Homo sapiens: one gene and its partners. The protein of the gene in region 3 purifies or fractionates together with the protein of the main gene of each other region. This does not show direct contact. Each region holds a gene or a part of one and is shown on either strand. Other genes may lie near its edges.

Region 1 (4,087 bases), on a different chromosome or scaffold from region 3:
CCTGTCTCTACTAAAAATACAAAAATTAGCTGGGTGTGGTGGCAGTCACCTGTAATCCCAGCTACTCAGGAGGCTGAGGCAGGAGAATTGCTTGAATCCACGAGGCGGAGGCTGCAGTGAACTGAGATCATGCCACTGTACTCCAGCCTGGGTGACAGAGCAAGACTTTGTCTTTAAAAAAAAAAAAAAAAAAAAGATTCTGATATGTGAAAAAGGCTGCAACAATATGCCTAGTTAAAGCTTTTTGTATTTATGTATTTACTTTTTAAAATTTTAAATTAATAGAGACAAGGTCTTAACCCTGTTGCCCAGGTTTAAGTACAGCAGCATGATTATGGCTCACTGCAGCCCTGAACTCTCAGCCCATGCGATCCTCCTACCTCCATCTCCTGAGTAGTTGGGACTACAGGCATGTACTACCACACTTGGCTAATTTAAAAATTATTTTTTACAATTATTTGTAGAGACATGGTCTCACAGTGTTGCCCAGGAACTCCTGGGCTCAAGCAGTGCACCAACCTTGGCCTCCCAAAGTGCTGAATTACTGAGTTCTCTCTGTATTGTCCAGGCTGGCCTCAAACTCCTGGGCTCCAGCGATCCTCTTGCTTCAGCCTCCTGAGTAGCTGGGACTATAGGTGCACACCACCATATCTGGCTTTTCTACACCTTTAAAAAAATTTATTTTTATTTTGTAAGTTCCAGCATACATGTGCAGGATGTGCAGGTTTGTTACATAGGTAAACATGTGCCATGGCGATTTGCTCCACCTATCAACCCATTACCTAGGTATCAAGCCCAGCATGCATTAGCTGTTTTTCCTGTTGTTCTCCCACCCCTCATCCCTCAACCCCCACCAACAGGCCCTAGTGTGTGTTCTCCTCCCTGTGTCCTTGTGTTCTTGTTGTTCAGCCCCCACTTATAAGTGAGAACATGCAGTGTTTGGTTTTCTGTTCTTGCATTAGTTTGCTGAGGATAATGGCTTCCAGCTCCATCCATGTCCCTGCATAGGACATGATCTCTTTCCTTTTTATGGCTGCGTAGTATTCCATAGTGTATATTTACCACATTTTCTTTATCCAGTCTATCATAGATGGGCATTTGGGTTGATTCCTTATCTTTGCTATTGTGAATAGTGCTGCCATGAACATATGTGTGCATGTATCTTTATAATAGAATGAATTGTGTTCTTTTGGATATATACCCAGTAATGGGATTGCTGGGTCAAATGGTATTTCTGGTTCTAGGTCTTTGAGGAATTGCCACACTGTCTTCCACAATGGTTGAACTAATTTACATTCCCACCAACAGTGTAAAAGTGTTCCCATTTCTCCACAGCCTCGCCAGCATCTCTTGTTTCTTGACTCTCTCTTTTTTTTGAAAAAGAGGCTCACTTTGTCACTCAGGCTGGAGTGGAGTGGCGTGATCTCAGCTCATTGCAACCTCCTCCTGGGTTCAGACGATTGTCCTGCCTCAGCGTCCTGAGTAGCTGGGATTACAGGTGCCGCTGTCATGCCTGGCTAATTTTTCTATTTTTAGTAGAGATGGGGTTTCACCATGTTAGCCAGGTTGGTCTCAAACTCCTGATCTCAAGTGAGCCACCTGCCTCGGCCTCCCAAAGTGGTGGGATTACAGGCATAAGCCACTGGGCCCAGCCTGTTTCTTGACTTTTTAATAACTGGCATTCTGACTGATGTGACATGGTATCTCATTGTGGTTTTGATTTGTGTTTCTCTAATGATCAGTGATGTTGATCTTTTTTTCATGTTTTTTTGGCCACATAAATGTCTTCTTTTGAGAAGTGTTCATGTTCTTTGTCCACTTTCTAATTGGGTTTTTTTAATTGTAAATTTGTTTAAGTTGCTTTTACAACTTTTGATGATGACCATGCGGTTCACTTTTGCCTTAAATTTTAAAAAGAATGTATTTAAACGGTTTCTTTTATAATGCTTTTATTGTTCTTAATGTTACTTTGATAATCTGAAGCAAATTAATTGTATAATTTCTTTCAAATTACAAAGGAATTGCTATTTTATAGCATTAGTGGTACATTTTGACTTGTAATCCCCAAATGGAGAGTTAAAAAATAATTTCTGGGCCGGGCGTGGTGGCTCATGCCTGTCATCCCAGCACTTTGGGAGGCCGAGGGGGGTGGATCACGAGGTCAGGAGATCAAGACCATCCTGGCTAACACGGTGAAACCCCATCTCTACTAAAAATACAAAAAATTAGCTGGGCGTGGTGGTGGGTGCCTGTAGTCCCAGCTACTCGGGAGGCTGAGGCAGGAGAATGGCATGAACCTGGGAGGCGGAGCTTGCAGTGAGCCGAGATGATGCCACTGCACTCCAGCCCTTGGCAACAGAGCGAGACTCCGTCTCAAAAAAAAAAAAAAAAACAAAACATTTCTGTTAAACTGTGATGGTTGTGAACGAGCCTCTCTTACCTTCTTTCCTGGTTCTGTTTTGGGGGAACTAAGAACTAAAAACGAAGAAGCTCAGGAGAAGACATTAAGAATTAACCATAGGCCAGGTGTAGTGGCTCACGCCTGTAATCCCAGCACTTTGGGAGGCTGAGGTGGGTAGATCGTGAGGTCAGGAGTTCGAGACCAGCCTGACCAACATGGTGAAACTCCCATCTCTACTAAAAAAAAAAAAAAAAGCAAAAATTAGCCGGGCGTGGTGGTGTGTGCCTGTATTCCCAGCTACTCAGGAGGCTGAGGCAGGAGAATCACTTGAACCCAAGGCGGAGGTTGCAGTGAGCTGTGATGGTGCCACTGCACTCCAGCCTGGGCAACAGAGCGAGACTCCATCTCAAAAAAAAAAAAAAAGAATTAACTATAATAATTTGCCTGAGAAATAACCAGTCTGATAATGTAGTTATAGGTCACAATTTTGTCAAGCACAAAATTATGCAATTTTTTGTTACATTTCTTTGAAAAATACATTTTGATATTTTTTCCTTTAGATCCTCCAGGTCCTATTGACAATACTAAGATTGCAGTCACTAAATGTGGTAATGTGATGCTTAGGCAAGGTAAGTTTGACTCGTATTTAAGCTTTTACTTGTGAGTGATTTGTCACTGTTAGAAATATGTTATCATTAGTCATCTATAGTACTTTTTTATTCAACTGAAGAATGTAATCCATACATTAACTAGGGCAAGTAATGAAAAGCAGCCACTTTTTTTTTATCTGAGGAAAGGTCTTAAGGCTGTTGTTAAGAGCAAAGCAAAAGCATCTCTGACTTTTTAAGACAAGCCATATGTTTCAGCTTATAACAATATGGGCTGGTAGTCTGCAGATTCATGTTCCAGAAGTTCTCAATTATCCCGAGAAGATTCATGCTGGGGGGTACATTATGAACGCTTTTGCAATATGAATATATAGGTTTGTAAACATTATTTCTTCTACGTAATTTTAAGGAGCAGATTCTGGCCAGATTTCTGAAGAAACATGGAATTTTCTGCAGTCTATTTATGGTGGAGGGCCTGAAGTTATCCTGCGACCTCCGGTTGTTCATGTTGATCCAGATATACTTCAAGCAGAAGAAAAAATTGAAGTAGAAACTCGGTCTTTGTAATTTTTAGGATGTAGAGAGTTCTAATGAGGAATCATTTTCATGTGCCCTGACATGTACACATGCGAAAACATTCCTAAAAGCGTGTTTATTTGCTTTATTTTTTTTCATCATTTATCCCATTTATTTCTTCTTAGTGGGCATTATGGAAGAATATATTAAAATGTGTAATATACCACAGGTTGGTATATTTAGTTTTAAATACTTACCATAAAGTCTTTCAGTGTAATTTTTTTTTGAGACAGAGTCTTGCTTTGTCACCCAGGCTGGAGTGCTGTGGTGTTACCTCAGCTCACTGCAGCCTCCACCTCCTGGGTTCAAGCGATTCTCCTGCCTCAGCCTCTCGAGTAGCTGGGATTACAGGCACCTGCCACCATGCCCGGCTAATTTTTGTATTTTAGTAGAGATGGGGTTTCACCATGTTGGCCAGGCTAGTCTCAAACTCCTGACCTCAGGTGATCCACCCACCTCGGCCTCCCAAAGTGCTGGGATTACAGGTGTGAGCCACAGCGCC
Region 2 (4,904 bases), on a different chromosome or scaffold from region 3:
ATGTACAGTTTGCCGTCTTAACCATTTTTAAGTGTACAGTTGGGGACTATTAAGAACATTCATATTGTTGTGCAACCATTGCCACATCCGTCTTCAGAACTCTTTTCATCTTGCAGACATGAAAATCTGTACCCATTAAACACTGACTTCGCACCCTCTGCCCCAGCTCCTGGTCACCACCATTCTGCCTTCTGTCTCTGTGAATTGGATGACTCTGAAGACCTCATAGAAGTGGCATCACACATTATCTGTCTTTCTGTGACATGCTTATTTCACTCAGCATGATGTCCTCAGGGGTCTTCTATGCTGTGGTATTGTAGAATTTCCTTCACTTTTAAGGCTGAATAATATTCCATTGTATGGATGGACCACATTTTGCTTATCCGTTTGTCTGTTGGTGGACATTTGAATTGCTTCCACGTTTTAGCTATTGTGAATAATGCTGTAGTGAACATGGGTGTACAGATGTTTTACTTTTATTTCTTTCTGGTATATACACACAAGTGTAATTGCTGGACCATGTGGTAATTTATGTTTAAATCTTTGAGCAGCTGCCAGACTGTTTCCTCCGGTGGCTGCAGCATTTTCCACCATGAGTGTGTGAGGTTTCTGATTCGTCTGCATTTTCATTCTTCTCTTAGGTTTTTAAAAATATCCCTTATGGCTGGGTGCGGTGGCTCACGCCCGTCATCCCAGCACTTTGGAAGGCTGAGGCAGGCGGATCACCTGAGGTCAGGAGTTTGAGACCAGCCCGGCCAACATGGTGAAACCCCGTCTCTACTAAAAATATAAAAATTAGCCGGGCGTGGTGGCAGGCGCCTGTAATCCCAGCTACTCAGGAGGCTGAGGCAGGAGAATCACTTGAACCCAGGAGGCAGAGGTCACAGTGAGCCGAGATCGCACCACTGCACTCCAGCCAGGGGGACAAGAGCGAGACTTCATCTGAAAAACAAAACAAAACAAAACAAAAGTCCCTTATGTTTCCTTTTTTGCCCCATTAATTGTTTAAGAGTATGTTGTTTAATTTCCACAAATTGGTGAATTTTACAGTTTTCCTTCTGATACTGATTTCTAATGTCATCTGTTGAGTTTGGAGAAGATACTTTGTATGATATTTATCTTTTAAAAACCTGAGTCTTAATTTGAGGCCTAATCCATGGTCTTTCCTGAAGACTGTCCCATGTGCACGTGAGAATAGTGTGTGTTCTGTTGTTGGGTGTTCTTTCTGTGTCTGTTCAGTCTGGTTGGTTGGTTGCATTGTTCAAGTCCTCTCTTTCCTTGTTTAGCTTCTGTCTGCTTGTTCTGTCCATTATTGAGAGAGAGATATTGAAGCCTCCGACTATTACAGAACTGAATGTTTTTCCCTTCAGTTCTATCCATTTTTGCTTCATGTATTTTGACGGTCTGTTAGTAAATGCAGAAATATTTATAATTGTTACATCTTCTTGCTGAACCTTCTATTAATACATATGGCCTTCTTTGTGACTAGTTTTTTTTTTTTTAATTTAAAGTATATTTCATATTTATTAGTATAACCACTCCTGTTCTCTTTTGGTTATTATTTATATGGAATATCTTTTTCCACCCTTTTACTTTCAACCTATTTGTGTCTTGGGCTCTAAGGTCAGTCTCTGGTGAACACATAGAGTTGAATCATGTTTTATTTTTTAAATCTATTTTGTCTACCTCTTTTGATTGAAGATTTTAATTAATTTTGCCTACCTCTTTTGATGGAAGAGCTTACATTTAAGTGATTACTGATAAGAAGGGACTTCTGTCATTTTGCTGTTTGTTTTCTATATGCGGTATAACATTTTTGTCTCTTATTTCTGCATTTTTTTTGTGCTTTTGATTATTTTGGTAGTAAACATTTTAATTCCCTTGTTTCTTTTGCGTATATTCTATAGCTGTTTTCTTTGTGCCTACCATAAAGATTACACTTAACATCTAACATTATCTCGCTTCAGTTTGAATTTATATCAACTTAACTTCAATAACACACAAAAACCGTCCCTATATGGCTTCATCTCCACTCCCTTTGGGTTGTTCATTTCACAAAATTACATCTTTATATATCATGTGTCCAAAATCATAGACTAATAATTGTTTTTTAATGCATTCATTTTTAAAAATTAGGTAGAAAACAATGTGGAGTTAGAATCCAAAGTTACAGTATTAGTAGCTTTTAGACTATTTTTTAATGTATTAGTTTCTTTTTTATTTGTCCCTTTTAACCAGAACAAATATTAGTCTCTTAAGTCATGTACGAAACAGAGTGATGAGTTAAAAACTGAAGTGTTAATGATACTAGATTTTACGATTGTCCATGAATTTACCTTTTTTGAGGCCTTTGCTTCTTCACGTGGCTTCCAGTTGCTCTCTAGCATTCTTTCTTCTCAACCAGTGGGACTCTATTTAAGCATTTCTTGCAGGGCAGATCTTGTGGTAACAAGCTTTTCAGCTTTTGTTTATCTGGGGATGTCTTAATATCGCTCTCACTTTTGAATGACCATTTTGCTAGATTTAAGGTTCTTGGTTGACAGTATTTTTCTTTTAGCACTTTGAATATGTCATCCCACTGCCTCTGGCCTCCAAAGTTTCTGGTGAGAAATCTGATCTGCTCATAATCTTATTTTGGAGCCCTTGTTTCTGACAAGTTGCTGCTTTCAGAATTCTTTCAAAAGTTTGATTAAGTTGTATCTTAGTGTGGACCTCTGAGTTCCTCTTGCTTGGAGGTCATTGAGCTTCTTGGATCTTCATATTCATGTCTTTCATCAAATGTGGGGAGTTTTCACCTATTATTTCTTCAAATAATGTCTTGCCCATTTCTCTCTTCTCCTTCTAAAAGTCCCACTAAGCATATGTTGGCCTGCTTGATGATGTCCACAAGGTCCCTGAGGCTCTGTTCACTTTTCTTCAATCTTTTTTCTTTCTGTTCCGGATACTTGATATTTCCCATTGTCCTGTCTTCACATTCACTGATTCTTTCTTGCGCCTGTGCAGATCTGCCTTTGAATCCCTTTAGTGAATTTTTCATTTCATTTATTGTACTTTTCAGCTTCATATTTTCTGTTTGGTTTCCTTTTGGATTTTCTGTCTCATTATTGGTATTTCCATTTTGCTCATACATGTCTTTCTTCACATCTTTAAGTTCCTTAGGCATCTTTAAATCGTTGTTTTAAAGTCTTTCTCTAGTAGATCTGCCATCAGATCTTTTACAGGAACAGTTTCTTATGTTTTCCTTTGAATGGGCCATACTTTCTTCTTTCTTTGGGTGCCTTGTGATGTTTTTGTTGTTGAAAAATGGACACTTGAATCGAATAATGTGATAACTCTGGAAATCAGATCCCCTTCCCAGGTTGATGATTCTTGTTTTTGGTTGTTGTAGGCTCTCTGTGCCAAGGCACAGCCTGAGGTGTGAACTTCAAGGTCGTGTCAAGTCTTTTCTGAGCCTATGCCTTTGCCTGGGCATGCATTGGCCACTTCCGAATTTTTCCTATAAATGCAGTTACTTTTGAATGTCTTCATTCATAAATATCTGGCTTTCAAGAAGGGGAACAGATGAAGGGGGTGGTGAAGACATTGGCCCTTTAAATTCCCTGGAGCTCTGTGGGGGTGAGGAGGGACCTGTGAACAGGGGAAGATGCAACAGTGGCCACTTACCTCTTCGCACCTCTGTGGTCAGAAGCAGCAGTCAGTGATCTGAGTACAGATCTCCGGTGTGGAGGACAGGGTTCTTTTTGCCCAGCCAGGCTGCAGGCTGTGTGCAGGCAGCTTTAGGAACACATCAGCACATGCACAGCTGCCTGCGGGGTGGGAGGTGGGGCCTCGGTAGCCACTGCCCAGCTGAGAGCTGCAAATGACCACAGTTAACCACAGTTTACCATTTATGCCTTTAATAGACTCCAGAGTTCCAAAGATAGTTACCTCAGACACATCCTGCCATTGCAGTTGTTGTTAGCTAGGGAGATGTGGCTTCCTGCTCTGCCGTGTTCCCAGAACACCGCATGCAGGCAGCCTTTTATGTGGTGGTGGTTGTTTATGTTGTGTCTTGTGCCTTCTCCCTAGTGCCTGAGATTGTGAGGGAGACCCAGGACCTAATTGAACAAGGGGCACTCCTGCAAGCCCACCGGAAGCTGATGGACCTGGAGTGCTCCCGGGACGGGCTGATGTACGAGCAGTACCGCATGGACAGTGGGAACACGCGTGACATGACCCTCATCCATGGCTACTTTGGCAGCACGCAGGGGCTCTCTGATGAGCTGGCTAAGCAGCTGTGGATGGTGCTGCAGAGGTCACTGGTCACTGTCCGCCGTGACCCCACCTTGCTGGTCTCAGTTGTCAGGATCATTGAAAGGGAAGAGAAAATTGACAGGCGCATACTTGACCGGAAAAAGCAAACTGGCTTTGTTCCTCCTGGGAGGCCCAAGAATTGGAAGGAGAAAATGTTCACCATCTTGGAGAGGACTGTGACCACCAGAATTGAGGGCACACAGGCAGATACCAGAGAGTCTGACAAGATGTGGCTTGTCCGCCACCTGGAAATTATAAGGAAGTACGTCCTGGATGACCTCATTGTCGCCAAAAACCTGATGGTTCAGTGCTTTCCTCCCCACTATGAGATCTTTAAGAACCTCCTGAACATGTACCACCAAGCCCTGAGCACGCGGATGCAGGACCTCGCATCGGAAGACCTGGAAGCCAATGAGATCGTGAGCCTCTTGACGTGGGTCTTAAACACCTACACAAGGTAAAGCTAACCTGGCGCCTGTGTTGGCTCTTAGGTAGAAGCCGTGTGTGAGAGGGGCCTGCAGCTGCTTGCTGGAGAGCCGACCTCAGGGTGTTGCTCTGGGCAGGTGCTCCGAGCCCACAGCCTTGGTTTCCAGCCCAGGGGTGTCTTCTTT
Region 3 (4,904 bases):
TTCCTCATTGTCCTGTATAATCACGGCCTTCACCCTTGTTGGGACTCCACAGATTTGGAGCTGATCAGATGGGTTTGTTGAGAACAGCAGCTTTTTTGGAGGATTTTAGGGGGAGGGAGATTCATTTGACTGTGCAAGATGGGCGACAGGGTGAGACTCCGTTTGAATTAAAAAAAAAAGAGAGAAATTTAGAACTGCATAATGAAAAAGTAGGCCACAAATATTAAGTTTTGGACAATTACAATTACATCTCTATCTTACTGTGCAAGATAGCGATGATGTGGCATCTCTTAGGGTCTTACTGTTCCTGTTTTCAGCCCTGCATCAGTTCTTGATATTTGGCAGCTTAAGTGAATTCAGGTATTTGCTTATAGTGACATCTGCTGTCATGTAAAGAAGTACTGCTTGCATCAGATATTGTCCTGTTTACATAACATGGGCTGTGCTCCTTTCTAGCTGTATATCTTTAAACAAGGCATTTGTCTGCTTGAGCTTCAGTTCCCTTGTAAAGTGAGCAGGTTAGAGGCAAAAGATCATATAGAAGAATAATTTGTAAAGTTGTTTAATTATCTTAAGATTGTCTACTTTAATAACATAGTTGGAAGCAAAGAAGGTAATGGAATTATTTTTCTATTATGTTTTAACATAGTTGGAAGCAAAGAAGGTAATGGAATTATTTTTCTATTATGTTTTGGCATTGTACCTTGAATCTATTTCTTCATTTTGAAAAGGGGGAACTGGCCGGGCTCGGTGGCTGATGCCTGTAATCCCAGCACTTTGGGAGGCGGAAGAAGTCAGATCACAAGGTCGAGAGATCGACACCATCTTGGCCAACATGGTGAAACCCCATCTCTACTGAAAATACAAAAATTAGCTGGGCATGGTGGCGTGCGCCTGTAGTCCCAGCTTGTACCCGGGACGCAGAGGTTGCAGTGAGCTGAGATCGAGCCACCGCACTCCAGCCTGGCGACAGAGCAAGACTCCATCTCAAAAAAAAAAAAAAAAAGGAAGGGGGGAACAGGACTTGTTCCTTTATGTGCTGTCCTGACTGTTGTGTATTATTTTTGTTAAGATTGCTATAGTTCTTTTTTTTTTTGAGACGGAGTCTTGCTCTGTCGCCAGTGCTGGGATTGCAGGTGTTAGCCTGGCATTGAGCAAGGTTTTGTAATTTAAGCATACAAGTCTCTCACCTCCTTGTTTACATTTATTCCCAGGCATTTTTTTCTTTTAGATGCGATTGTAAATGGAATTGCTTTCTTAATTTCATTTTCTGATTGTTCGTTGCTGGTACAGTAGTCCCTTCTTATCCACAGTATTGCCTTACGTGGTTTTACTTACCTGCGTCACCCGTGGTCCAAAAATATTGAATGGAAGATTATATAAATAAACATTTCATGAGTTTTAAATTGCAAACAGGTCTGAATAACATGATAAAAATCTCACGGCCTCCTGCTCCGTCCTACCCAGGACACGAATCATCCCTTTGTCCAACATATTCATGCTGTATGTGCTCCCCACCCGCTAGTTACATACTAGCCACCTCAGTTATCAGATCAGTTGTTGGAGTATTGCAGTGCTTGTGTTCAAGTGACCTTTATTTTATTTAAAATGGCACCAAAGAGCAAGAATAGCGATGCTGGCAGTTCACATATGCCAGAGAGAAGCCATATAGTGCTTCCTTTAAGTGAAGAGGTGAGTTTTTGACTTAGGAAAGAAAAAAGATCATATACTGGGGTTGCTGAGATCTATGGTAAGAACAAATCTTTTGTCCATGAAATTGTGAAGAAGGAAAAAGAAATTTGTGCTAGTTTTGTTGTGACACCCCAAACTGCAAAAGTTACAGCCACAGTGTGTGATAAGTGCTTAGTTGAGATGGACAAGACATTAAATTTGTGGGTGGAGGACACAAACAGGAAACATGTTTCGATTGATGGCAACCTGGTTTGGTACTATTCATCGTTTTGGACATTCACTGGGGTCTTGGAATTTCAAAAATAAGATGTTTGAGTAGCTGTATACTCTATCACATGGATGGAACATACTCTGGTTGTATCAGCATTTTTTTTTTTTTTTTTTTGAGATGGAATCATTCTGTTGCCCAGGTTGGAGTTCAGTGGTGCGATCTTGGCCCACTGCAGCCTCTGCCTCCCGGGTTCAAGTGATTCTTTGCCTCAGCCTCCCAAGCAGCGGGGATTACAGGCGTGTGCCACCATGCCCAGCTAATTTTTGTATTTTTAGTAGAAAGGAGGTTTCTGTATGTTGGCCAGGCTGGTCTCGAACTCTTGGCTTCAAGTGATCCACCCGCCTCAGTCTCCGAAAGTGCTGGGATTACAGGTGTGAGCCACCGCACCCAGCCTGGTGTGCATCAGCATTTTGGACTTTGGAGTTTATGTAACCAAGGATCCAGGCTGTGGACCTCGTTTATTACTTGAAGAATTCAATATTTATTTCTGCCTTTTTGACTCCTTGACTGTAAAATACTGATCTGATCTGTAGAGAGAACAGTACATGGACCCGGGAATCCTCAGTGCCTTAATAGATCCTAAGTACTTATTTATTCTTTCCCATAGAGGCTTACACATGGTAGGAGAAGAGATTTCTGGAATACCTTTCCTCCCCAAAGAAAGCTGGTTTCTTTTGTTTGTTAAGTGAGAGAGTGGTACCACAGGGTTTCCGAGATTTCCAAGGCTGATGAAAATTCTTAACTTCTGTTGTCTGCTTGTCTTGCTTTCTTGAATTTATTTTTTGTATGTTATGTATTTATTATTTAGAGAGAGGATCTCCCTGTGTCACCCAGGCTGGAGTGCAGTGTCACAGTCATAACTCACGGCAGTGTCAACCTCCTGGGCTCAAGTGATTCTCCTTCCTTGGCCTCCTGAGTAGCTAGGAACACAGGCATGCTCCACTATGCCTGGCTATTTTTTTCCCCCTGGAGACAGGATCTTGTTGTGTTGCACAGGCTGGTTTCAAACTCTTGGCCTCAAAGCTAGCCTCCCACCTTGGTCTCTGAAAGTGCTAGAATTAAATAGAATTAAAGGTGTGACCAACTGCACCCAGCTTATTTATGATGATGATGATGATGATGATGATGATGATGTTTGGGAGATGGAGTCTCTGTCGCCCAGGCTGGAGTGCAATGGCACGATCTCAGCTGACTGCAACCTCTGGCTCACTGCAACCTCCACCTCCTGGGTTCAACTGATTTTTGTGCCTTAGCCTCCTGAGTAGCTGGGATTACAGGCACCCGCCATCATGCCTGGCTAATTTTTCTATTTTTGTAGAGACGGGGTTTCACCATGTTAGCCAGGCTGGTCTCAAACTCCTGACCTCAGGTGATCCGCCCACTTCGGCCTCCCAAAGTGCTGGGATTACAGGCATGAGCCGCTGCACCCAGCTCTATTTTTTGTTTTGTGGTAGGAAATTATAAAACATGGAATTATGCATTTGTCAGGCTTTAACTACTTTTGAAAAAATGTTGGAAAATATTTCTGTATGAAACATAAAACAACTTTTAATTTTTTTTTAGAAGTCAATGAAAGGATTCTATTTTGCAAAGCTGTATTATGAAGCTAAAGAATATGATCTTGCTAAAAAGTAAGTACAAACCGTAACATGTATTCTTTTTTTTAAAATCAATGCCTTTTCTCATTTTCTTCTTTGAAATAGGTAAAAATATGTTCTTAGTAGTTCTTCCTAAGTGTATTCTGGAATAAGGGATTTATCACTCAGACTGATGCTAAGGACCAGCCTAGATTCCATTGAGATTGAAACTGCAATTAGTGTTTTCTGCATGCTGCTGCTTTATACCAAGGGCAAGAAATTGTTTGGCTTAAAACACTTTTTCTAAAAATTGTCTTCTGTTGGAGTAAAAGAGGACCATGCCTATATCTTAATTTGTTTTTGGTTAGATATCTGATACCTTAATCAGATGGAAAATAGCAATGAATAAAAAACTAAACTGTAATTGTAAGGCAGGAGAATAGCTTGTATAAAAGATCTTTAATTGACACAATATGTGATGCTGTAAGGCTCTATCCTAGGGATAAGAAGCTTGGTGATTCTGATTTCCTGGCTGGGAGTGGATTAAAGCAGGAAATTAAGAGGGAGGCAGGCTTTTTTTTTTTTTTAGGCAGTATCTGTCTCTCTTGCTCCGGCTGGAGTGCAGCAGCTGGCTCCATCTTTGCTCACTGTAACCTCTGCCTTCTGGGCTCAAGCGATCTTCCCACCTCAGCGCCCCAAGTAGCTGGGGATACAGATGCGCACCACCACGTGGACCTGGCTAAGGTTTGCATTTTTTGGTAGAGACAGGTGTCACTATGTTGCCCAGGCTAGTCTTGAACTTCTGAGCACAGCAGTCTGCCTGCCTCGGCCTCCCATAGTGTTGGGACTACAGGTGTGTGTTACTGCTCCCAGCTGGGAGGCAGGCTTTTAAAGGCATCCAAAGGAAGATGGAAATGCTGGTAAGAAAGGAAAATGGTGGTACATAAATTATGTAACTAGCAGCACTGTGACTGTTAACTCTTGTACCTTTTTACTGTGAGACTTTAATCCCTTAGTTTAGGTCTGGCCTAATTTCTCTGATCGTAATACTGTCAAGGAACCTAGAGGATATTTACTTATTTTAGTTGTTACTTGATTTGAGAAATGGAAATTTCCTGTATTTGGTACTGTAATTAGTAATTTTTCTTCTGTTCGATTTTAGCTGGATATAGTACTGTTAGAAATTACTTTCTTGCTTAAAGGGTAAATGTATTTCCCTTTGTTGTTTGGGAAATTGTTGCTGTTTAGTATTTTGCATTATGATAACTTTAAAAATGTTTATTATAATCACTTCTAATTTATTGGCAAAACTGTTAGTGCTTTATTAAAATGTGATCAGGAAGAAAAAGCAATCTATATGTTCA
Region 4 (3,639 bases), on a different chromosome or scaffold from region 3:
TACCAGCTTTTTCTCTCAGGGTTCTGAGTCAGAGGACACCATCCAAGAATGTTGTTAGCTTTTCAGTTCCCGCTCTGCATTGCCTGAAAAAACTGGTATGTTGCACGTATGCTTTTGGTTGAAATTGAACATACTCTAGTGAATGTGCCTTAAAAATCAAGACACTAGTTCAGAGGAAGCACATAATGTCCAGATCTATGGCGAACACAGGTGTTGGAAGCCAGGACTGTGATAATCAGAAGCTATAAGAGAACTTTCGGAGCCTGCCTCCTTCAGTGACAAGTAGGGCACAAAATTCTAGAAGCAGAAGGTTGTTTTTTTTTTTTTTTCTCCATTCTGAAAATAGCAGGACATTTACCTCTTAAATAAACTTAGCATTTAGAGGTAATTCTAAATTTAACAAGTGACAGGGTTGGTTTCAAAGAAAAAGGTCCATGCTTTGCTTACAATGGAGTCTGCAGTGAGGGGAGATGCTGGGATAGCCATTTCCATGGCTCTGTTATGCAAGCACAAATTTCATCTCCTAGATGGACTTCCTGGTTTTCTCTTACTGCAGTAACACTGGCCTTCCCTTCTCTAATTCCTTACCCCAGCTGCGGCATCCCTGTGTTAACTCAGGATGCCAAGTGGCCCTCAGATTACACTTCTCCAGATAGCTGAATGAGTCTGCTTTCACTGTGACTGGGACCTGAATGACCTGCAGTCAGGGCCCAGAGTTGGGACTCTATACTACCCTGGGCTCTGGTCTGTAGGTTTGTAGTAGCCACCGGTAATAAGCCAAGGGCTAGGCTCTTGTTTGAGTTTATGGCCACCTGGAATTTTCAGTCATCTCATGATACAGGCGGGAGGGGCAGAACAGATAGATTACGACAGGTTTGGTTTTTAAATTTTCCAACCAAGTGGAAAGGCAAGTTGGTCTTATAGAAAGCACTACTGCACTTAGTAGCTATGTGATTTTGAGCAAACCACATAATCTCTCTAGGTCCATTTTCCTAACCACAAGATAAAGATGTTACATTGTCAAAGCTTGCCGTAGGATTTGGGGTGAATGAAAATTATTCCTTGCTTTCATCACTACCTTTATAGCTCTCATCACTACCTTTATAGCTCATCACTGTGCCTTTTTTTCTTTCCTAAGAAAGACATCACATCCCTCTCCTCTCCTCCTCTGTGCTCCTGTCCCTCCCTCCCCCTAGCAAGGTCCAGGCAAAGCTGGAGATGAGGCTGAGATCCAGAGTTTCCTAGAACGCAACTTAGGATGGCTAGGAAAGGGAAGCCTGACTGCTCGGTCAGGAGGGTGCAGTATCTCTTGCTGGGAACACAGCCAGTTTTCACAATGCCTAGACTGTGTATGTCTATTTGCACAAGATTGTCTTTTCCTATTTTGGAGTGGTCAGACATTTTATTTTTGTTCAAGATTATCTGGCGTTTTAGACAAATTTGCAAAACTGTGCTTTTATTGACTTTTTGAATAAACTTTGGTATTCTGGAGCAAATGTATTTATTTATTGGTATGTGCAATGACAAACTTGGTATTTTCCCATGTTGACATTATGTATGTTGTAGAATTTAGTGTTTGTCTAAGTACACACATATATCAACAAATTAAACTTGAATCGTTTCAACACTTCTGTGTACTTTTTTCATAAAGGGGAAAAAAGCCCTGTTTACTTCCTAATTTTTTTCTATACCTTTCATTCATTGTTTCCTAGGAGCCTCAGGTGGGTAAGTAGGTGATAATAGCAAAGAGATCATAACCTCACCAATGACATGTGGGTCAACACTGTCCTTCCTCTGGCCTGTGCCTTTCAAGTTTAAGGTTCATCAGAACCACACCCAGAGGCTGGAAAAATGGTGAAGTCAGAAGGTACTTAAGTTAGAGCAGTTCTCTTCAGGGTCTGCTGTGCCGCCTGAAGGGGCTGGTGGTTCCTCAGTATCCCCTGTGGGCCTGGCCTTAGGAAGAGAACAGGGCTGTAGAGATGAAAAAGGTATAAAAGACCCAACCACTTGATGTCTCAGGGCTTGCTTGGACCCTAACCCATTTAAACAGGACCTCGAGATGCTTAGGAATCTTTTTTTGTTGCCGGGCAGCTGTGGCAGATTTGAAGGCAAAAGGAAGGGAGGCTACAGTTGTAGCTAGAAGCAGACATGAAAGCTAATGGTCTGACCCAGACAAGAGGTTATAACTAAAGGCACCCGGAGACTGCAGAAGGGCCCTGGGCCACTCCTGGCAATCAGGGTAGCCTTAGAGGGTGTCAGGTGTGACATCTCAGCAACACTGGACTTGACAGAGTGGTGACAGGGATCATGCTGTCACCAAGCACCTACCACATGCTTTGCCCTGGCACAGACACTTTATAAACAGCATCTTATTTAATCCAAACAGCCCTGTAAATAGAGCATTATTCCCAATTCATGGGGAAACTGGTTCTCTGAGAGGTTAAGGAATGACCTAAGAGGAGAAATTTGGGCTATTTTCTTTGTATAAAAAAAGGGAAATAAAGGAAAAGGAAGCACATTTTAGAAAAGTCAATGGTCAAGGCAAAGTCATAAATGTGTTCATGTTTTTTCTCAATATTGCTGAATAGCTAAAGCACTAAATTTTTCTTTGGAATACAAATAGTCCAGATTGAAGAGAACTTTGAGAGTGTGGTAATAATTCGGGTTTGTTTATTCCCCCAGATCTAGAGTTCTGATGTGACCAAGAGCATTTCCTACCTGAACCATGGCCTATCTCCTGTGGCCTCTGCCTCTGGTGGGAAATAGCGCATACAGGATATTCTAAAAAGGAAAGAGGGTTTTGTTTGTTTAGTCATCAGGTTCAAAAATCTTAAATGGCTATAGACAGGGGTGACCCTACGTCCAGGACAGTCTTAGTTTATGCCTATCACCTTGGCATAATTATATTAAAGCTCCCTTTTTCCAAAGTGTTTGAATTTGGACCTTAAGTTATTTGATCACCCAAGCCATATAAGGTGCATTGTATGGTTCTCAAAGGCCGTTGATTCTACAGGCCAAATACACCTCCACTCCTCATCACGACTCCCTGGGCCCAGCTTCTGGAGCTAGTCATGGAGATAATGGTTTCTTTGTGCTCCTGTTGTGACCAGGAAAGGGGATCTCCTGGCTGCACCACCCACCTGATTTACCAAGAGTGATCCCAGATTATGCAGTTGTTTTGTGAGCTAACTGTCCATAAAGGTATGACTTGTGTACTCTGCCACAGTGCCAAAAGGCCAGGGGACTGATCAAGTTCCCAGCACCCTCGTGAGAAATGAAGACCGCAAGAAAAGAGACAGCAGCCCTGGCAACAAAAACCGGACCCATGATTTTGTCATCCTGGGTTGTATATACACATATAACTGTCATCCCCGAAGGATAAAATAATTCTGGAAAATCCAAAAAGAATTTTCTAAATCCTAAATAACTGAAAGGTACATCCAAATGTCTGATATATAAATACACAAATATATTCCTTATATATAAACCAACCAAGAGCTAGGGCAGGAAGAACCACCATAAGGGCTTAGTACTTCTGGCAGGAATTTCCATAAGCCAATTTTCCCCAAAGACCAACAACACTTTACATAACAGCCTCACCAAAATACTTGAACATCCATGTATTTTCACACCCTACTG
Region 5 (3,730 bases), on a different chromosome or scaffold from region 3:
TGCAAAGGATGGTGTTTTGCCCTGTTGCCCAGGCTGGTCTTGAACTGCTGGGCTCAAGCAAAACGCCCTCTTCGGCCTCCCAAAGTGCTGGGATTACAGGCATGAATCGACATCCCTGGCCTACCCTTTTCTAAAGTAGCATTTATTTTAGGAAGTTATGTACATTGTTGTATTTGTTTGAGTTGTCATAGGTACTAATACAATTTTGATGTGGTATTAAAATAATTCCCACTGGTAATGTTTTCCTACTTAACAAAGTATAGACAGTAAGAAATCAAATATATAGCAAAGAGAAATTTACTGGGTAAAATGTGCCTAGTATTCATACCCACTAATTCTAGAGTTGTTGCTTCTAATGAAAAGGGAGGAAGATGATGGTCCCATGTTAGTATTTTAGGCAGATGGAGCATCAGTCAAATCCTGGAACTGCTGTACCCAGCTTTAAAGTTTCACTGTATTGACTACATAATGCTTCCTTGTAGATATAATCTAAAATTGTTCAGCAGAGCAAATGGGTTTATATTTGACAACTAGGGAGCAATGCCAGCATTATTTTCTCTTTTGTAGTATGCCAAATATATTTAAAAATATAAGCCATAATTTTAATACCTAAAGTAACTGTTAGACTGTGCATTTTCTTATTTTAGTAATAGTAATTTCTGTTTGTGGTGAATATGAGTTTTATTTTTAAGTGTCCTAAATGTTTAATAAGAGTCAAGCCTGAGGGAGAAATCAGTCTGGTAGTTTGTAATTATTAAGATACAGCAGTTATAGGCCAGGCACGGGCTCGCATCTATAATCCCAGCACTTTGGGAGGCCAGAGCGGGTGGATCACAGGGTCAGGAGATCAAGACCATCCTGGCCAACATGGTGAAATCCCGTCTCTACTGAAAATACAAAAATTAGCTGGGCGTGGTGGCACACACCTCTACTCGGGAGGCTGAGGCAAGAGGATGGCTTGAACCTGGGAGACAGAGGTTGCAGTGAGCCGAGATCACACCATTGCACTTCAGCCTGGTGACAAGAGCGAGACTCCATCTCAAAAAAAAAAAAAAAAAAAAAAAAAGATGTAGCAGTTATATTGTTACTCCTTTTCCTCTTGGTTTCCCCCCCAAAAATACTTTTCTTGCTTAATTTACTTTCTTGGTAAGAGTGAATAGAGGCTAAGTGATAATGCCACTACACTGATTAAATGACTTACTGGCACAAAACTATTGAGGCTTAACTAGTTGACTGTTTTAATAACATCATTAAAATTTCATTTTGGTTTATTAGAGCACATCCATGCAAAGTTGGAATCTAACCATTCTCATGTCTCCTTATAATGCCTAGGGGATCTTTGAAACAGTATTTTTGCCAACTCATACTTTCTATTTTCATTCTGTAAAGATAAAACATGTAAGTGAAAACGTTTAACAAACATTAAGAACCTTCTTCGACCAGGCACTCTCCTTCGCTACAAAATTTCCACATTACCTATTTTTTTATTAGCCATTTTTGAACTCTCTTCCATTTCTAAGTTTCTCCCTGCAGCTTTCCTGAACATGAAGCATTTCCTTTTCTTTTCATTTCTAGCTTTCCTTTCTCTGTACCTCATGTACACTTGGAAGCTTCAGGGACTTAGCACTGGTCATGCCAGCCTCTACAGATCACATCTCTGTCTATAATTGGGTCTCCATGGTAATGAGAAGCAGAAAGTGCTGAAGTAGCGCACTATGTAAGGACTGGCAAGAGAAAATACTGTCGCGGCCTCTACAGGCATAGCATTGAATCCCCATGGTGCCCAAGAAGCCCGAGAGAAGCACGCTGTGGTGTAGAGCAGGAGACTGAGGACACGGACTTGGCAGATTTATTAGCAGCAATATTCTAAGATGAACCAAATTTAAGAGTTTGTAAGTGCTCTTTTCAATTGGAAAAGACCTTTGAAATTTTTTTTTCTTTTCTTTTAGGAGGCCAGATGCTCCAGTGCCTGATGGCGAAAGTGAGAAAACTGTAGAAGAAAGTTCAGATAGCGAATCTTCTTTTAGTGATTAAGCTTAATTTTGATAAGAATTACATATGCATGCATAGGGGTACATTTACATTCTGTAAGAGATTGAGCCTGAACTCTCTTAGTCATAAAAACATCAAATGGCCACATGTCCACTACCAAGCTTCTTCTATGTTAAAAAAATAATAATAAAGCAGTTTTAACCTGCCAGTATGTCTTGTTGCTAAAATAAAGGGCCTCAAAATGAAAAATAGGATAACCTAAATAAAGTACAATTAGTGCTACAAATACTAAGATAGAATATTTTAGAGATGCAATGAGCAATTACAGTCAGGCACGGTGGCTCACGCCTGTAATCCCAGCACTTTGGGAGGCCGAGGCGAGTGGATAACCTGAGGTCAGGAGTTCAAGACCAGCCTGGCCAACATGGTGAAACCTCCATCTCTACTAAAAATACAAAAAGTAGCTGGGCGTGGTGACAAAAATTAGCTGGGCGTAGTGGCAGGTGCCTGTAATCCCAGCTACTCGGGAAGCTGAGGCAGGAGAATCACTTGAACCCAGAAGGTAAAGGTTTCAGTGAGCTGAGATTGCGTCATTGCACTCCAGCCATGGCGACAAGAGTGAAACTCTGTCTTAAAAATAAAAAGAGATGCAATGAGCAATTTTAAATGAAGTCAGTGTGAGTTTAGTGATCAATAGTAGACCCAATGCAAAAAAAAAAAAAAAACAGTGAATTTGGCTAAGTGAATTATTCAATTTTTGTGAATATTTTAGCATGAAAAGTATATGGATTCATATCATGAGTTGTTAAAGACATTTCTGGTAGAAAGTAATACTGGGTTGAAATTTCTTTGACAACTTAAAACTTACATATCACATATGTTATGGGTATGGAACTTTTTGGTAGTATTTTTTAGCATATGCAGCCTTTCACCACTTGGCCATTAGTTCATGTGTTTTTTAAGTCAGATATTCTTATGCAGTCATGCATTGATTAACAACAGGGATATGTTCTGAGAAATGCGTCATTAGGCGGTTTTATTGTACAAACATTGTGGATTTCATAACAAGTGTACTTACACAAACCTATTGCTTCTAGGCTACAAACCTGCACAGCATGTCACTGTACTGAATACTGTAGGCAGTTGTAACACAGTGGTATTTGTGTATCTAAATGTAGAAAAGGTGCAGTCAAATATGGTTTTATAATCTTAGGGGATGTTGACCAAAACATTATGCAGCACTTGACTATATTTATTAGCAGATGGAAATTGAATTGAAGGTCGTTTCAGTGTGGTTCATAATGAGTAACCATCGTTGCCATCAACTCCTGTATTACCTAAACAAAAAAAAATGTGTGCAGGATTAAAATGTTCTCACCTCACCTTGCAAATAAATAATTATTATTCATAGTTATTTACACACAGTCTAGAAAATTCCTAAAGTACTTATGTGAAAAATATATAAATGCATTTAACTAATTGTGCCCATTTTAGTTTAGTTCACCTGCAAGTAGAGCCTGAGAAAAGGACTTGGGTGTATACAGGTCATTCACAAGGTGATCCCAGAAAACAGAAGTAAAAAAACAGGGAGAGGAAAAGGGAGAAAACCACTTAAAAGTTTATTATCGGCCAGGTGAGGTAGCTCATACCTGTAATCCCAGCACTTCGGGATGCTGAGGTAGGTGGATCACTTGAGGTCAGGAGTTTGAGACCAGCCTGGCCAACATGGTGAAACCCT

Evidence for each region.
Region 1: the proteins of RGPD8 (region 3) and USP33 purify together in Homo sapiens (co-immunoprecipitation; one large-scale study listed by IntAct). This does not show direct contact.
Region 2: the proteins of RGPD8 (region 3) and EXOC3 purify together in Homo sapiens (co-immunoprecipitation; one large-scale study listed by IntAct). This does not show direct contact.
Region 4: the proteins of RGPD8 (region 3) and RIC3 purify together in Homo sapiens (co-immunoprecipitation; one large-scale study listed by IntAct). This does not show direct contact.
Region 5: the proteins of RGPD8 (region 3) and WASHC3 purify together in Homo sapiens (co-immunoprecipitation; one large-scale study listed by IntAct). This does not show direct contact.

The regions. Positions count from the first base shown.
Region 1 is NC_000001.11:77,696,806-77,700,892, reverse strand, and holds part of USP33 (ubiquitin carboxyl-terminal hydrolase 33), read left to right. Parts: intron 1-2,961; coding exon 2,962-3,030; intron 3,031-3,418; coding exon 3,419-3,576; 3' UTR 3,577-4,087. UniProt on the Homo sapiens protein: Deubiquitinating enzyme involved in various processes such as centrosome duplication, cellular migration and beta-2 adrenergic receptor/ADRB2 recycling.
Region 2 is NC_000005.10:449,302-454,205, forward strand, and holds part of EXOC3 (exocyst complex component 3), read left to right. Parts: intron 1-4,068; coding exon 4,069-4,750; intron 4,751-4,904. UniProt on the Homo sapiens protein: Component of the exocyst complex involved in the docking of exocytic vesicles with fusion sites on the plasma membrane.
Region 3 is NC_000002.12:112,422,930-112,427,833, reverse strand, and holds part of RGPD8 (RANBP2-like and GRIP domain-containing protein 8), read left to right. Parts: intron 1-3,526; coding exon 3,527-3,594; intron 3,595-4,904.
Region 4 is NC_000011.10:8,104,617-8,108,255, forward strand, and holds the end of RIC3 (protein RIC-3 isoform a precursor), read right to left. Parts: 3' UTR 1,440-3,639; downstream 1-1,439. UniProt on the Homo sapiens protein: Molecular chaperone which facilitates proper subunit assembly and surface trafficking of alpha-7 (CHRNA7) and alpha-8 (CHRNA8) nicotinic acetylcholine receptors.
Region 5 is NC_000012.12:102,011,412-102,015,141, reverse strand, and holds the end of WASHC3 (WASH complex subunit 3), read left to right. Parts: intron 1-1,949; coding exon 1,950-2,034; 3' UTR 2,035-2,302; downstream 2,303-3,730. UniProt on the Homo sapiens protein: Acts as a component of the WASH core complex that functions as a nucleation-promoting factor (NPF) at the surface of endosomes, where it recruits and activates the Arp2/3 complex to induce actin polymerization, playing a key role in the fission of tubules that serve as transport intermediates during endosome sorting.